Regions from separate parts of the Homo sapiens genome. Here region 1 is linked to region 2. Evidence: fine-mapped expression QTL. A gene starts in region 2. The other region holds a variant in brackets. All regions are shown on one strand. Distances are from middle to middle.

Region 1 (4,385 bases), 41 kb before region 2:
GCATTCTCAAGAAGCTTATATTGTATATTTCAGAGCACCCTTATCACCAACTCCAGGTAGATTCTTGTGGAATTTGTCGTTTTCAAGTATAGGAAATTCTTAATTGTTCTTTTTGGTGGGAGATTAACCAAGGCACTTTAGAAGGGGGATATGTGGATATCTGAATATTCTTTCTACTTTTTCCCCTCTAGGCATCTCCCCTCAGATGGAAGTCACATGTGTGCCCACGCCCACAAGCACAGTGTCCTCCATAGGTAACACAAATGGGGAAGAAGTGGGGCCATCTGTCTACTTGGAAAGGCTAAAGATCCTCCGACAGCGATGTGGTCTGGACAACACAAAGGTACTGCTCCTTTTCTTCTGTGCAGTTCAGGGAGGGTAGTCACAAGCAGGTCCGAGGCAGGCTGGCCCACAGAGAAGTGGCTTAGTCTTGCTGTAGTTCTGGAGCTGCATCTTGACCTGCTTGACCTGACCTTAGACAATCTCTCTCCTTCTCTCAATAGCAAGATGACCGACCTCCTTTGACCTCTTTGCTCTCCAAACCAGCAGTTCCTACTGTCGCCTCTTCCACAGACATGCTCCACAGCAAACTCTCTCAGCTCCGGGAGTCACGGGAGCAGCACCAGCATTCAGACCTGGATTCTAACCAGACTCACTCTTCAGGAACTGTGACCTCCTCCTCCTCCACAGCTAACATAGACGACTTGAAAAAAAGACTGGAGAGAATAAAGAGCAGTCGCAAATGAAGCTGCCCCACTCCCCCGGCACCCTGCAGCTTTAGTTTACTAAACTAGAAGTCCTCATAGTTTAAAATGGCCTCAGCAGGCCTAGTGTATACAAACTGGTTGTATGTATCATGCCGTGGAGCTAGGGGGAGGAGTCATTGTGGCACAAGTATTTGTACATACTCTGCTTCTCTCTGTCAGCGTCCTGCTGCTCTAGAAGACTGTCCGTGGATGAGTTTAGTGTACAGACTTGTAAACAGCTGCCCCCTCTCTGCTCAGTCTAGTTCCCAGATCCTTTTCTTTTCTTTTTAATTGCTCATTTGTAAAATTGTCCTAATCTTTCCTAGCTTTTTAATAGTTAATATTAGAAACTCTTTAATAGTTTTCCTTTCAGTTTGTGAGCTCTTCTCTGTCGCCCTGAAGGGTCACTGTATTCTGTATGAATGCATGGCATGATACAACTAATTTAAGAGTCTTTTATAAATAAAGTTTGCATTAACTATACCTGACTCCCAAGATGCTCCATATCATGGAGTGTTGGGCAGCAATTTTTTAACTTTTGGTACCAGCTGGGTATTCAGCCAGTTAGAGAAAGGTTAATTACTGCTTACAGAGCTTCCCTTTTTCTTGGCTCACAGACTTGGAGCTGTCTTTTATTCCTTTGGAATGGAAGGAACTCTCCTTCCCTGCTCTCCACAAACAGCTCCTAGGGAGCAGAAAAATCTCATCCTTCCTTGTTTTGAGATTTTGGTCATGATTTCCCTCCAATTATCACCAGTCGTTTCAAGAAGCTCTTGGGCATCCTACCACTTTGCTGACCAAAGGCACACAAGATTGCGCCCAGAGATTGGCTGGGCTTCAGTGGTTCTCACACTACAACTAGATTTGTGTTCATTTGACTAATGGAGTTTGGGAAATCTTAGTGGTTTGCTGCTTGGTTGTATGAGTCTCTTTTGGTCCAGGCTAACAGTTGCTTCACATTCAGTCAGAGTAAGGATGAGAAAGTGAGCTGAGTATTCACCTCTGGAATAAATTCCACAGGACCTCCCTCCACAGTCAGAAAAACTCTTCAGGATGAAAAGGTTCTGGATTCAGGAGGAGATTTTGGGCAGTTATAAAGTTCAAAGGAACTTTCCTATTGTAGCCCACCTTCAATTCAATTGATGTCCAAGAAATGAAAGATTGATGGAAGATTAATCCTGTAAAGGTTCCAGTCATCGTTTTCAGGTGGCCCCGGAGCCTCCTGAAATTAAACTTGTCTCTCCTTTATAGTGGGAACATGGGAGTGGGTATTTGTTCACTGAAGGGATGATGGAGGCGTTTGCTGCTATAGTGGAAAGACATATTTAGAAAGAATGGCTACAAAGGCTGGGCCTGGTGGCTCACTCATACAACCGTAGCATTTTGGGAGGCTAAGGTGGGTGAATCACTTGAGCCCAGGAGTTCAAGACCAACATGGGCAACATGGCTCTACCAAAAAAATACAAAAATTAGCTGGGTATAGTGGCTCAAGCCTGTAGTCCCAGCTACTTGGGAGGCTGAGGTGGGAGGATCACCTGAGCCCAGGAGGTCAAGGCTGCAGTGAGCC[G/A]TGATCACTCCACTACACTCCAGCCTGGGCAACAGAGCAAGACCTTGTCTCAAAAAAGAGGAGGGAAACAAAAGAAGAGGAAAAAAAAGAGTGGCTGTACTCCTGTCTGGAATTAGCACAGCTGACTGGAAAAACCCAAGTCCCTAGAGCTTACAACACTGACCGCTATGTCGGAAGAAAACAGACTTATGAGAATGTGTGTTCTTGTTTAAAAAGCAGGTCCTGCATGTCACAAGTAATTCTGAATCCCTTCCCCCTTGATCGAGTTGATGCCCTGGGCTGCCAAATCCTGCAAGCTCACTGCCTTTCAGTCAACCAGAACCAAAGAATGAGGCCAAGGAACTCTGTCCTGTTTGTTTTCTGATGTGTTGAAAAATGAGAAAAAAAAAAAAAAACGTTATGAGGAGGGTGCTAAAGATCCCTATCTCAGGTCCCTTCCCGTGGAAAACCACGTTAGAAGATCCTAGGCCAGGTACTGTAGCCACAGGGTTTCCCTGCTCCACTCCACTATCCTGTGCCTGAGGCAGACGTTGATCTTCATTCTTTCCCTGAGCTCATGGATGAGACTTCTCAAGACGGAGCCATGCTCCATCCCACACCTGTGACCTCTGCCAACAGTAACCGTGAAGAATGTGCTCTGAAAGGGTATCTTTGAAGTTCTATGATTCTTTTTTTTGCAAGGGACTCTTGCTGTGTCGCTCAGGCTGGATGGCATGCAGTGGCATGCCTCTCTCCTCACTACAACCTCTGCCTCCTGAGTTCAGCCAATTCTCCTGCCTCAGCCTCCCAAGCAGCTGAGAAGCTGGGATTACAGGTGCCCACCACCACACCCGGCTAGTTTTTGTATTTTTAGTAGAGACGGGATTTTACCATGTTGGCCAGGCTGGTCTCCAACTCCTGACCTCAGGTGATCCACCAGCCTCAGCCTCCCAAAGTGATGGGATTACAGGCGTGAGCCACCATGCCCAGCCCATGACTCTTATAACTTAGAGGTCCCATTTCTTGGAAAAATAAATTGTTCCAGCTGGGAACTGCTGTGTGAGGAAACATTCCAGGAAGCAACTACCCCACTGATGGGCTATTTCCAGGGCCCAAGAGAGGGACGAGGTAAGCGGCAGAGGAACTTTCAACAGGCCCAATGCCCGGTCCAGTTCCCAGGCAATAGTGAGAATACGAGTGGTAGTGATTCACAGCTTACTAGGCACTAGGCATTGTGCTAAGGCACCATGTAAGTTCTTTCATTTAATCCTCATAACCGTATGAGGTAAGTAATGTCGTTATATACACCTTTTAATATACAGGTGGCCTTCCAGATCTGTGGGTTTTGCATCTGCAGATTCAACCAACTGCAGATTGAAAATATTTGTGGGGAAAGAAAACAATAAAAATAATACAAATTTTAAAATAATACAGTATAACTATTTACATAGTATTTACGTTCTATTGGGTGTAAGTCATCTAGAGATGATTTGAAGTATATGGGAAGGCCGGGCAGGGTGGCTCATGTCTGTAATCCCAACACTTTGGGAGGCCCCGATGGGTGGATAACCTGAGGTCAGGAGTTTGAGACCAGCCTGACCAACACGGTGAAACCCCATCTCTACTAAAAATACAAAAACTAGCCAGGCGTGGTGGCGGGCACCTGTAATCCCAGCTACTCGGGAGGCTGAGGCAGGAGAATCACTTGAACCTAAGAGGCGGAGATTGCAGTGAGCCGAGATCGCACCATTGCACTCCAGCCTGGGCAATGAGCAAAATTCCAACTCAAAAAGATAAAAATAAATTTTAAAAATGAAGTATATGGGAGGATGTGCATAGGTTATATGTAAACTGTGCCATTTTATATAAGAGATTTGAGCATCTGTGGATTTTGGTATGCATGGTTGGTTCTTCTTCTTTTTGAGACAGAGTCGCTCTGTCGCCCAGGCTGGAGTGCAGTGGTGCAATCTTGTCTCACTGCAAGCTCCACCTCCCAGGTTCATGCCATTCTCCTGCCTCAGCCTCCCACGTAGCTGGGACTACAGGCGTCCACCACCACGCCTGGCTAATTTTTTGTATTTTTGGTAGAGACA
Region 2 (4,385 bases):
ACTGTCCCTTGCCTGAAAATTCTAGCCTTGCTGTATGTACCAACCCTAAGCTATTCAGTCATAATCCTTACCCAATACTAATCAAGCCCCACCCTCCTATCCCATGTTGAAAGATCCACCTTAAAACAGATTTTGAAAAGCTACTAAGACTCTATAGTGTCCTTCCTTACCGCAATGAGCCATAAACTCTGCTTTGTCTTATCAACAGGTTGTTTTGGTGGGGAAATTGCTGGGAAACCAGCATTTATTTGACACATACCTATGCAAGGTTCTGCTGCATCCTCCCCAGGGGAGGCCACTTCCTGCTGTACAGCAGACTCCACTTCTGTCACCACTGCTACAGCTGCCTCTTTGTCCAGCCCAGGCTGGGTGAGACTTGGGCCCTCAGAGGAAGGCTGGGGCCACAGCAGCAGTTCAGAGCCTGGCAGCACCAGCTGGTACACTTGCAGATGAAGCCTCTCGCTGATCCGCACTGGGGCCACATTTCCCTCACTCTCCAGCCTGCCCCGTTGTACCAAGCTGCAAAGCAAAGTAACAGCCAGCTAGGAGATGCTCACTATTCAAGTGGTCTTCCCCGAAAGCCCCAGTCCCCAAGCAGTCTGGGTCCTAAAGGACGCCGTGCCTTTGGAACATTCACTGCAAAAGAGCACTGAATAGGAAATGACAGTCAGCACCGGGTTCCATCCCAAACCACAACAGAAAACCTCAAAGGAACGACACACTCTCCTCTGACTTACCTAGTCCAGCCAGAACTCTGCTCACAGGCACACACGTCTCCCCATGGGCCTAATGACAGGTTCTGAAATAAACCAACAAAAGTCCTTCTCAAATGTGTTCGAGGGGTCGGGTAGGAATAAAAAAAGAAACTAGATGAAACTTTCCTGGGACAAATTTAAGATGAAACTCCTGGAAGGTTAGAAGCCTCTGGTTCTCCTCTAACAGGACAGTGCTGTCTGATTCTTCATTCAGTAAGGACCAAAAAGTCTGTCTCCTCACCTCCCTCCCAAGGGTATGGAGAATTACTAAATTGAACACATTACTGTCTTCCAGTGAGTACTAAACAGAAAAAGTAATAAGGAACACCAGCTTTTTAAAATGGTATTTATTGGGCCAGGCGCGGGGGCTCACACCTGTAATCTCAGCACTTTGGGAGGCCCAGGCAGGCGGATTACTTGAGGCCAGGAGTTTGAGACCAGCCTCACCAACATGGTGAAACCCTGTCTCTACTAAAAATACAAAAATTAGCTGGGTGTGGTGGTGCACATCTGTAATCCCAGCTACTCGGGAGGCTGAGGCATGAGAATCACTTGAACCTGGGAAGTGGAGGTTGCAATAAGGCGAGATCGTGCCACTGCACTCCAGCCTGGGCGACAAAGCAAGACTGTCTAAGAAAAAAGAAAAATAAATAAAATAAAATGGTACTTATTGTGCAGTGAAACCTTTTATCTTCACTATTTCATCAGCTCCTCCATATAATCCCAAGAGAGCCACTGCTTTGTTTCACAGATGAATTAAATGCGGCACGTAATTTAACCAGCTAGGTGACAAAGCTGGAATTTGATCCCATGCTTTCTTAATTCCAAAAACCTTAGCTCTTGACCTTCCTCACTCACTGCTGACACTGTATGATTCCAGCTTTCAACAACTTTTCAAACCTCGATTCTTTAACTACTGCTGCTGAGAGGAGACAGTCCTGAAGAGAAGGGACAAGACTATCTCCTATCTCTTGAAATACTCTCTTTCTTCAAATTGAAAAGCTGTCTAGCAATGTCCAAACCTCCCCTACATTTTCAAGGGCGGAGGGAAGTCGCTCTATCCTTCAATACCTCCTCCTGCCGTGGCTTTACTCCCTCGCCCTTCTCCTTGGAGGCAGACTCCTCTTCCAGCGGCCCCCACAGCAGGCCGGGCTGCAGGGGGTCCCCGACACACCAGACCCCCAAGCGCTGTTCCTTGGCGAGTGAGGGGCCAAGGGCCAAGCCCCGGGGAAGGCTCTTTAAAGCGAGGATGTCTCGGGTCGGCTCGGGTGGGACGTCTTTGAGGCCCTGCGTACAGCCTTCTCCGGAAGGGTTCCATCCTAAGTCCAGGCCCAGGCGCGGCTCGCGGGCTGCAGAGAGAAGGGAAGACAGTGAGGGAGCCACCCAAGAAGGTGGGAGGTGGGGAAAAGTGTGGGAGGAAACCGCAGGTCCAGGTGGGCCTGCGGAGCCCGAGGGACAGGTGAGGGCTCTAAGGAGGGCCCTGAAAGTTTTGAGGAGGCTCAAGGGCTCTTCAGAAGCCCCCAGCGACTCTGAGGGCACTGGAGGATCCTGGGATCCGGAGGAGAGAAGACTGAGGAGAAAGCTGACCACAGAGCGTCAGATCCACCTGGGCCAAGGTTGAGGGTCGCGGACATCGCAGGTCACTCACCGAGTTGCAGCGCCTTCTTCCCCTCCAAGAGCAGCTCCTCCGCCTCCTCCATTCCGGGTCAGAAAGCCTCCCTACGCCGGAAGTGAGCTTCCTCTTCTCAGCTCCTCCAGGAAACAGTCACGGACTTCCAAATTTTTTTCTCAGGAAAGAAGCCTCAGAGCTGGACCTCATTGGTGCACAGGACTGGGAGTTTGGGAGTACTGGGGAGGCAGAACTCTGTCCGAGAGCAATGCGAACCTCGGATTCCGGAGGTGCACCAGTGATTCGACTAGCTGGGAAAGCGGAACTAATTGTTCCAGCCATCTCTTTGGGAGCGACGAGTCGGACAGTTATGCTGTTACCTCCCCGAGGCAGGAACTTAGGCGGGCATGTGCAGGAAGTGGGCGGGGCTCCTGGAAAGGCCATGTTTGGGGCCGGAAGTGGGTTGGAGGTGTGGCGGAAATGGTTGGGGATAGAAGAGAGCGGGAGGGGGCGGTTCCCGTTCCACCGCGGAGCCGGATGTTTGCCGAGCCTTGACAGGCGTGGCAGAGGGAGCAGTGCCCGAGCGCGGTGAGCTGCTGGGCGCGGGGTCTCCCCGGGTGGGGATGGGGAAAGGAAAGGAGCTGGCCAGGTCGTCCGAAGGGATGGGGTCCGGATGGGGAGGACCGGAGCAGATCCGAGGAGGGGAACGGGGGTGGAACTGGGCTCAGAGGCCTGGCCTTCCTGCAGGGTTTCTGCCCCATTTTGGCGCCTGCAATAAGAGGACTTAATCATTTTCACTACCTTCTTCCTGCCTTCCCCAGGGCAGAGTCCAGGCCGGATCGCTGTCATCCAGCAAGCCGGCGGGAGGGGGAAATCTCCCAGATCTGATCTGGCAAAGCACTAAGAAGAAGAAATTTGGGGGAAGTGTTCCTCCTTGCCACTTATTAGGCCACGCTTTCAGTTCAACTTATTTATTTTTTTAAGACGGAGTTTCACTCTTATTGCCCAGGCTGGAGTCTCGGTTCACTGCAACCTCCGCCTCCCGGATTCAAGCGATTCTCCTGCCTCAGCCTCCTGAGTAGCTGGGATTACAGGCGTCCGCCACCACGCCCGGCTAATTTTTGTATTTTTAGTAGAGACAGGGTTTCACCATGTTGGCCAGGCTGGTCTCGAACTCCTGACCTCGTGATCCTCCCGCCCCCGCCTCCCAAAGTGCTGGGATTATAGACGTGAGCCACTGCGCCCGGCCTCAGTTCAACTTCTTAATCTGTGAAACAGGATAATTGCAAAACGTAACCTGGGCTTTGTAAACCGTGAAGCTCTATGCAAACATAATTGTAGTTGAGAGTTGTAATTGCTGTTGTATTGTGGTGGGATTTGCAACTGGGAGGCCGATTCCAACGTTGAGAATATGATTTCTTTTCTTTTTTTTTTTTTAGACGGAGTCTCACTCTGTCGCCCAGGCTGGAGTGCAGTGGCGTGATCTCGGCTCACTGCAACCTCCGCCTCCCGGGTTCAAGCGATTCTTCTGCCTCAGCCTCCCAGGTAGCTGGGAGTACAGGCGCGCGCCACCACACCCGGCTAATTTTTGTATTTTTAGTAGAGATGGGGTTTCACCATCTTGGCCAGGTTGGTCTCCAAATCCTGACCTTGTGATCCGCCCGCCTCGGCCTCCCAAAGTGCTGGGATTACAGCCGTGAACCACCGTGCCCGGCTGGTCCTCTCTTTCCTCACTGTAAAATGAGCTTAGTAGAACATGCCTCATCAGTGCTATCGTGAGGTTGAGTTTGTGTCCCCAGTTCATGGTCCTATATAGGCCCTCAACAAGTGTGGGTTCCCTTCTTTACTTAGGAGATGAATTAATTGGTTCATTCATTCAACAAATGATAGCATCTACTATATATCAGGTGTCATTCTGAATAGACCAGAAGTTCTTAAACAGTGATTCTCAGAAGGTGTATGAACCTCTTAAAATTGCATACATCTCCTAAGTTTTCTTAGGGAAAAAGTCCACACATGTT

Which allele goes with the higher level. Alleles are on the strand shown, and positions count from the first base shown. SD is a standard deviation of normalised expression in the study named.
For the expression in sun-exposed skin of the gene that starts at base 2,472 in region 2, G is the high allele of the variant in region 1 and A is the other (moderate effect, 0.54 SD a copy in GTEx).

What was found. PIP is the estimated chance that this variant, and not a neighbour inherited with it, causes the effect.
Region 1: its variant is the best candidate, but not a certain one, in a credible set for the expression of ZNF408 in sun-exposed skin (GTEx, PIP 0.61).

Annotation. Positions count from the first base shown.
Region 1 is chr11:46,740,384-46,744,768 of GRCh38, reverse strand. It overlaps CKAP5 (cytoskeleton associated protein 5), which reads left to right. Exons shown (of 44, transcript NM_001008938.4): 43 at 192-343; 44 at 504-1,721. The coding sequence ends at 746. Among named protein-coding and RNA genes, the nearest start is that of MIR5582, 11 kb to the left of the region's middle. The variant G/A (reference allele first, on the strand shown) is at 2,314.
Region 2 is chr11:46,699,118-46,703,502 of GRCh38, reverse strand. ZNF408 (zinc finger protein 408) reads right to left here and starts at 2,472. Exons shown (of 5, transcript NM_024741.3): 1 at 2,404-2,472; 2 at 1,827-2,104; 3 at 738-799; 4 at 260-519. The coding sequence starts at 2,455. ARHGAP1 (Rho GTPase activating protein 1) reads left to right here and starts at 2,884. Exons shown (of 13, transcript NM_004308.5): 1 at 2,884-2,952. RefSeq lists an enhancer at 2,389-2,678 and a silencer at 3,009-3,128.